Linked DNA regions of Homo sapiens: all the other regions are linked to region 1. The links come from fine-mapping of genetic effects on gene expression. A gene starts in region 1. Each other region holds a variant in brackets. All regions are shown on one strand. Distances are from middle to middle. Region 1 holds the start of MARCKS (myristoylated alanine rich protein kinase C substrate). Region 2 has its middle 170 kb from the start of LINC02518. Region 3 has its middle 6.3 kb from the start of LINC02518.

What was found. PIP is the estimated chance that this variant, and not a neighbour inherited with it, causes the effect. A credible set is the group of variants that fine-mapping cannot tell apart.
Region 2: its variant is the best candidate, but not a certain one, in a credible set for the expression of MARCKS in whole blood (TOPMed, PIP 0.63).
Region 3: its variant is the best candidate, but not a certain one, in a credible set for the expression of MARCKS in whole blood (TOPMed, PIP 0.69).

Annotation. Positions count from the first base shown.
Region 1 is chr6:113,856,023-113,858,787 of GRCh38, reverse strand. It overlaps MARCKS (myristoylated alanine rich protein kinase C substrate), which reads right to left and starts at 1,443. Exons shown (of 2, transcript NM_002356.7): 1 at 941-1,443. The coding sequence starts at 1,042. RefSeq lists enhancers at 1,362-1,411, 1,199-1,742, 1,743-2,288, 2,559-2,608, 2,629-2,688.
Region 2 is chr6:113,265,531-113,268,295 of GRCh38, reverse strand. No RefSeq gene overlaps it. Among named protein-coding and RNA genes, the nearest start is that of LINC02518, 170 kb to the left of the region's middle. The variant G/A (reference allele first, on the strand shown) is at 1,243.
Region 3 is chr6:113,438,387-113,441,151 of GRCh38, reverse strand. No RefSeq gene overlaps it. Among named protein-coding and RNA genes, the nearest start is that of LINC02518, 6.3 kb to the right of the region's middle. The variant C/T (reference allele first, on the strand shown) is at 1,041.

The DNA of each region.
Region 1 (2,765 bases):
GCAGACCTCGCTTTCCCCAGTAGGTTAGAGCAGGCGAAGCGACACGATCTCTTCTCTAGGAAAAGAGGCGTGGTGGGTGCCCAGTGTTTGCGAAGCAGCCACCCATGGCCGACCTCTCGGGTCCACCCAATCGTGGCTATCTGCCTGGGTCCGGGCAGCGCCGGGCGGCCCCTCGCGGGTGGTCGAGGCGCCACGCACAAGAACAATCCCGACCGAAAGGCACGAACCGCCTCTTTTTGACCATCTGGAAAGGTTCTTAAAGGACCCACCGAGTGTTCCCACCCCACAGATACCATTTAAAAATCAAATGGATGTGTAATTCCACAGACAGCTACGAATAAAGATTTAGGACAGTGGGAAAGCCTCATCAAAAGGTACCGAAGCCCTCTGTCTGGCCCCAGCCAGCCACCTTTCCAAGAACCCAGGGCACGCCGCCGCGGCATACAATAAGACAGCCTTTCCCTCCTCGCCTTTCTCCACCACCATCCCCATTGCGCCCCCCTTTCCCGACTCCCCCCCCCGCCACACACAATCACACCACCAGTTCAGAAATCTCGAAGACAATCCAGCTTCGACAACAAACCCGAGAGACACCCAAACACCATTGTGCCCCCAAACACAAATGAAACCTGGCTGGGGGCGGGGGAAGGAGGGCACCTAGCTAGTCACGTTCTGCCAATCTCCAAACCACGCCATTTTAGACGATTTATCACTCCTTTCCTCCCGTCTACTCAAGAATTCTCCAGGATTCTAAGGAACCACTCCTTTGGTGTGGGGGGACCCCGGCTATGAAAAATCCACAATTTAGGCTATCCATTTCCATTCAACTTTCAGACTAGAATCCAGCCACACTCCTCTCCACGAATGAGCCTTGGGAGCCACCAGGAGGGAAGGAGAGAAAGACACGAAATAAATGACCACAACCACAGGTAGAATTTACCTGTCCGTTCGCTTTGGAAGGCGACGAGGCCACAGCCGCCTCCCCAGGCCTCTCCGCGGCGGCTTCTCCCTTCGCTGCGGTCTTGGAGAACTGGGCACCCATGCTGGCTTCTTCAACAAAGAAACTCAACAGATCCAAGAGGGGAAACAAAGAGCCTCGGGTTGGTGTAACGACGGGGCGAGCAGCAGCAGCAGCGGCGGCGGCAACAGCGGCAGCGGCACACACACCGGAGGGAGGGGGGTGGGGGTGGTGGAGAGGACAGAACAGAACCGATTAAATACACTCCGGATAAAAAAATTTTAGTCGAAGAGATCAAAAAGCAGCAGCACAGGAGGGAGGGAAAAAGGGTGGAAAAGTCGAGCACAAAAAAAGGAGCCCAAGTGTAGTTCGAAAAAAAAAGAAGTAATAAAAAAATCCCAGATTTGTAGCCGCACTGTAGACAAGAGGAAAATGGAGAAATCTCCCTGGTTGCTAATAAGATGCGGGGTCCAACGCCCAAGTGCACAGATGAATGGGCTCGCGGGCGCTGACGCGGCCCCCGCGCGCGTCGGCCAATCCGCGCGCCGCACACAAAGCAGGGGGCGGGGTCTGCGCGCCTGGCGAACAATGGAGCCGCGCTTTGCAAACGGTTTGAAAATCAGCCTCAGACCGAGAATTAATGTCCTCCAAATAAATAAATCAATTAAAAAATACATGGCACTCGTCTCTCTCTGCTTGAAAATAATAATGCATTTCTTGATTGGCTTGCTTTGTTTGGAATTAATTAACACGGGAGGGGGGTACTTGTGCATCGGGGCGGAGAAAGCGTTAACTTGACTCGCATTGACTCTCGTCGGTCTATATCCGTGTGTCTCTCTCTCTCCACTCGCTCCCCTCCCCCATCTTTCCGTGTGTTTATGTGTATGTGTGTGTATGCGAGTGTTAAAGACAATGGTTGCGATTTGTGTGTTTGCAGCATGTTTTCTTTCTTTTTTCCATATTGGTTTTACAGATAATGCTCAGGGTTTGTTTTTTGAACTGCTGCAATGGTTAAATCGTCCCAAATTGAAAGGTATTTAAACCACGAAGATCGAATTTCATCAAGCGAGATCGCAAGTTAGAATTAGGTCTGTAGGCCAGATGTGGAAAATGCAAAAGCGGCAAACAGCGAAGCCACACTCCCTTCCCTCTCCCACATTGGCATGAAATAAAATATTTTGAGATTGGCCTTGGGCGCTCAACAAATTCCCCCTTCTCTGGCTATTCCCAATTAGTGATTTTTTTCCCCCACAATTCAAAGTGAGAGCCATTTACAGAAGATCGAAACTCTTCGCGTTTTATCACTGTTTTAAATGACATAATTTTCCTCTATGGTGAAATGAGACACAGCCTCGAGTAGACGAATCCATATTTACAGTTGGGATGTTATTCGCGTCAATATGGATCGTTTTCAGCCTACTGCCAGAATCGAATGGACTCTTTTTGAACGTGTGTGTGAGTGCGCACGCAGGCGAATGTGCTCCTGAAAGGAAGGGAGGCAGCAGCAACGATGACATTCTAAACCGGATTGCAGTTCTAAGGAGAAATGTTCTGTATGTTGAGAGATAGCAAGATCCCTGAGCTCTCCAAGTCTAACTTGGGTTAGAGGAAAACCTTCTATAATGGTACACAGGATACCTCCATCTGTCACTGCACTCCTTGCCACCGAAGTACCAGACGCTTTTTGTGCGTGAGAGACAAGGCACTGACTTAAAGTATGAGGGGTGAGGGGAACCAAGGAAACAGCTTAATAAGCATTTTCTTCCCAAAGTTTTCACTCGTGGCAAAATCAGACCACCTTTTCTCG
Region 2 (2,765 bases), 590 kb after region 1:
ATAGCATGAGCAATCTGTGCCTTAAGGACATGCTCCTGCTGCAGATAAATAGCCAGAGCCCATCCCTTTATTTCAGCCCATCCCTTTGTTTCTCATAAGGAATACTTTTAGTTAATCTATAATTTATAGAAACAATGCTTATCACTTGCTCACTGTCAATAAATATGTGGGTAAATCTCTGTTTGAGGCTCTCAACTTTGAATGCTGTGAAACCCCTGATTTCCCACTCCACACTCTATATTTCTGTGTGTGTGTCTTTAATTCCTCTATCACCGCTGGGTTAGGGTCTCAATAACTGAGCTAGTCTCAGCAAGTGGCGCTGAACATGGGGCTCAAACCCTGGTTGAAGGGTCGCTGGAGCAATCGTTGGAGAATGTGGAACTAAGGTGGAGGACACCTGAGTACTCTTAAAGCAATCCCCATGGCGAGTAACAAGGGGAGTTTGGAAGCATCAGGGTAACAATGGGACAAGTTTGAGCTCTGGTTCGTTCCACCTTGGAACCTTTTCACACTGATCATGTGGAGGAAGGGGAGTATAACAAAGTAACAGAAGACGTTATAGAGCAGGTTTGTTTGCAGCTAAAGCTAAAGTGGTAAAGGAGGGAGAGGTTCATCCCTACCCTTCTTCACCCCCTCATTATTATTTTGAAGAAAAAGAGTGGCCTGACCCTCCAGATCTTTCTTTCCCAGAGGACACTGGGTGAAAAGTATTTGCCCCAGTGACTATTTGAGCAGCACCTTGAGTGACTGCTCTGCATTCTATTCAGGCAGGAATTCAGCAAGCTAGATGAGAGGGTGATTTAGAGGCTTGGCAGTTCCCTGTTAGAATACACCCTCCAGATCAACAGGGAAATATTATAGCTACATTTGAGCCTTTTCCTTTTAAATTTGGGATACACCATGAGGGGCCCATCCCTGGCCTTGTTCCAAACTGGGGCATTTTCGGCTCAGGCCATTCCCTCACCCCTGTACAAGGTTTGTCCCCGACCACAGCCAGTAGTGCCACAGTAGATTTATGCTGCACAAAAGCTGTGAGCCTTCTGCCTGGGGAATCCCTGCAAAAGGTCCCAACAGCGGTCCATGGACACTTGCCAGTGGGGATGATAAAATTACTTTTAGGAAGGTCTAGTTTAAATTTAAAAGGGGTACAAGTACAAACAGGAGTCATTGATTCAGATTACAATATGGAAATTCAAATTGTTATATCTACTTTTGTTCCCTGGAAAGCAGAGCCAGGAGAGC[G/A]CATAGCACAGCTCCTGATTGTGCCATATGTGGAAAGGGGGAAAAGTGAAATTAAATGAACAGGAGGATTTGGAAGCATGAATAAACAAGGCAAAGCAGCTTATTGGGTAAATCAAATTACTGATAAATGTCCTACCTGTGAAGTAACTATTCAGGGAAAGAAATTTAAAGGCTTGGTAAATACAGGAGCAGACATTTCAATCATTTCTCTACAGCACTGGCCATCAACGTGGCCAATTCAACCCACTCAATATAACATAGTTGGAGTTGGTAACGCCCCCAAAGTATATCACAGTGGTTATATTTTGCATTGTGAAGGGCCCGATGGACAACCTGGGACTATTCAACCACTTATAACTTCTGTACCTATAAATTTATAGGGGAGAGATTTATTACAGCAATAGGGAGCACAACTTCTAATTCTGGAACAATTATATAGCCTTCAAAATCAACATATGATGCATGAAATGGGGTATGTCCCTGGTATGGTACTAGGAAAAAATTTGCAAGGTTTGAAAGAACGGCTTCAAGAGGAAAGACAAAGTTCCCACCAAGGTTTAGGATATCATTTTTGATGGTGGCCATTTTTAAGCCTCCAAAACCTATACCTTTAAAATGGTTAACAGATAAGCCAATTTGGATTGAACAATGGCCACTAAGTAAAGAGAAACTGGAGGCTTTAGAGGAATTAGTTACTGAACAATTAGATAATGGGCACATAGCTCCAACATTTTCCCCTTGGAATTCTTCAGTTTTTGTAATTAAGAAAAAATCAGGTAAATGGAGAATGTTAACTGACTTAAGAGCCAACAATTCAGTTTTACAACCTATGGGAGCATTACAGCCGAGATTGCCTCCTCCTGCTATAATTACAAAAAATTGGCTTTTAATAGTCATAGATTTAAAAGGCTGTTTCTTTACTAGCCCCTTAGCTGAGCAAGACTGTGAACAGTTTACTTTTACAATTCCTGCAGCGAACAACCTGCAGCCTGCTAAGCATTTTCATTGTTTTACAGATGGGTCTAGTAATGGTAAAGTTTCTTATTCTGGATCAAAATGTAAAGTTTTTCAGATGCCCTATACTTCAGCTCAAAAAGCAGAGCTTGTAGCTGTAATTTAGGTATTGACCGCTTTTGATATGCCTATTAATATGATTTCTGATTCTTCATATGTGATTCATTCCACACAGTTAATTGAAAATGCTCAGTTATGATTTCATACAGATGAACAACTGATGACTTTATTTACCCAATTGCAAACAGCAGTTAGGAGTAGAATGCACCCTTTTTGTTTTTTTGACAGAGTCTTGCTCAGTGGCCCAGGCTGGAGTGCACTGGTGCAATCTCAGCTCACTGCAAGTTCCGCCTCCCAGGTTCACGCCATTCTCCTGCCTCAGCTTCCCAAGTAGCTGGGACCACAGGTCCCCACCACTATGCCTGGCTAATTTTTTTTTTTTTTGTATTTTTAGTAGAGACTGGGTTTCACTGTGTTAGTCAGGTTGGTCTCGATCTCCCGAACTTGTG
Region 3 (2,765 bases), 420 kb after region 1:
TTCCATCAGAGCAACACTTCCGGTCTTTCTAATCTCCTTTACACACCACTTTTCTAGGGTGAAGATATGGTCTTTCTGCTTGGTGGGTTTAGAGAAAGGAACTGGACCTTCCCAGACCAGCATCTTGTTTTTGGAATCCAGCTGTCTGCAGGAAGCACACACCCTGCTCTGTCCTTTGTGACTAGGTGCGTAGATCTGCCCAATTCTGGACTGTAGTACCCAAGCCACATCTTCAGATCTAGCTTTTAGGGTAACAAAGGTGATAGCTTTTCCAAATGCTAGATTCCTCTCAATTAGTCCCAAACTCAGGTAGGAAAGAGGGGTGATGTTTATTGGACCTCTCAAACCCCAACACAGTAAAGCTCCAAAGGGATATTTCAAAGTACCTCCTCTTCGATATATGAAGAAAGAAATAATCAGCTTTCTTTCCAGCCCTGCTATTTCCAGTGATTTCTCATCTCATGGAAAGTCTATCCAGTTGTCTAGGCCTCTGTCTCCCCTCTTCCTTTCTTCACATCTAGTTAATCTCCAGGTTCTTGTTAATATTTTTCAAGTTCAGCTACTTTCTTCAATCTCACTACCATTGCCTTTGTGGACACCCTCATAACTCAACTCCTAGATTACTGCAATAGTTTGTTGTTGTTTGTTTTTGTTTTTAATTCTTCCTGTTTCTCAAAGTATAAATCACAGATTTTCTGCATCCAAATCCCCTATGTTTGAAACCAATCAGACCTAGTGAAAAAGAATTGTAGGTAATTGCTGTGCATACCAAAGGCTGTGAACCCCTGCTAGTATCCTTCCAGAAAATGTAAGGTAAAATCCTTACATTTTCACTGCAGTGATCTTTCTAGAGTGCAAAGCTGGTGATGATACCCTCTTGCTTAAAATTACTCATGGGTTTTCCATTAGCCATAAAGACACAGTTGAAAATCGACAGCATGACATACAAAGCCCTTTCATGCAGACCTGACTTGTGCTCACGATCGCACAGCTTTAGTTCTTGACATAATTTTGTTTTTCTTTATGTGCTCCAGTCAAAA[C/T]GTGTCACCTGCATGCTCTTAATTGATCATGTCATTTCTGCTCCTGGTTCTTTTGTTCAGCCTGCTCCTTCCACTCAGAGCAGCTCCTCTAACCCCGACTTCTTTGTAACTAACATCCTCTGGAAAACCTCCCTTAATCTCCTTCTTTCCCAGGCTGGGTCGGGTGCTCCCCCTAAATGATCCTTTTTTCTGTCTCAGTCTTAGTAAACCTCACATCTTGTTCTGTAATTTTCCATTACGTTGTCTATTTTCCTTATGAGATAGTAAAGTTCTTTAGGTAAAGGAATATATCTTAGTTTTTCTTTGTATTTCTAGTACCTAACATAATAACTGGTACATTACAAGTGCTTAATAAGTTTTGATTTGATATATCCTGTGTTTCAAAGAGCCTAACTTTAAAGAAAGCCAGTCTACTCGGTGTATAATGGACAACCAGAGATAAGCATTTTTTTTAAACGATGTGTACAGAGAATAAAAGATTATTAGATAGACCCTGGATTCAGCCTCAATGCATTTCTTCAGTTTGTAGTCTAGGAAGACATTAGACTACATGCTTTGCATGCATTTTCTCTTATACTCGAAACATTCCCATGCAAGGGAGGTACTAATGAGGTCCCTGTTTTATGAAAAGACAACCAAGACTTAGGTTTAGTGACCTGACTGAGCCACATAAGCCATTTTTAATGGAAAATAGTTCAGGTAATCTTTAAACCTAGCATGAATGGAAAAGAAATTATAGCATCAAGGAACACATTTTAAAATGTTCAATGAGCATTGCTATGTGCTAGCAATATTCTAGGAGCTGTGAGTCTATCAAGGTAAAAAGAGACCAAATTTCCTGCAGTGATGGAGCATATATCTTCTAGGTAGTTATATCATCTTCACTAACACTACTAGTTTAATCAACATTTTAAAAGACAATAACAGTTTTGAGCATTTGACTCACTTGGGACAGTGAAGATAAGAAAAGATAAAAATTTCAAGTCATGCAGCCATGGGAGGACTTATTTTTTCCTTCATTTTTCTCTAAGTGATATCTGGGAAATGGGAATAGGTTTTCATGTACCCATAGCTTTGCAGGCAACATGAAGATCATAATCTAAACCTGGGCCTGGGGTAACTTGTTGGCCATTATAGCTATCTCTTTATTAGAGACACTAAGCAATCTAAGCAATGCCCATGTGTGCAATGTCATGCTTAGGGAAGCATCAAGGAAAAAAGAACAGCTGGAAACAGACAGAAAGGTAGTAGGAAAATAGAAAATGGAATGAGAAAGAGAGGGAACAAGGATATTGTCATTGATGAAGTATCATATAAGGATACACTCTATGCATCCTGGAAGCAGGGACCTGACCATACTGATCACTAGTGTGTAACTTGGGATCGAGCAGAGTGCCTGTTAGTTAGTTGGTGTTCACTAAGTGTATTAGAAAGATAACTTATTGAAAGAAGTCTATTCATTAATTCAAAAAAAAATCTGTTATGTGCTCTGATATATTCTGGCCATAGGGCAAAGCCTTGGTCCCTGCCATCAAGGGATGCAGAGAATCTTTGGAGGAATAAAACATAACCAAATTATTGAAGGAAAATCATGATGAATACTATGACAGAGAGATGAACATAGTGCTATGGAAACACTAGAAATAGCTACTTGCTCTATCTCAGGACTCGGAGGAGACTTTGTAGAAAATGTGGCATTTTGAGCAGAGAAGGATATTCAAGGCA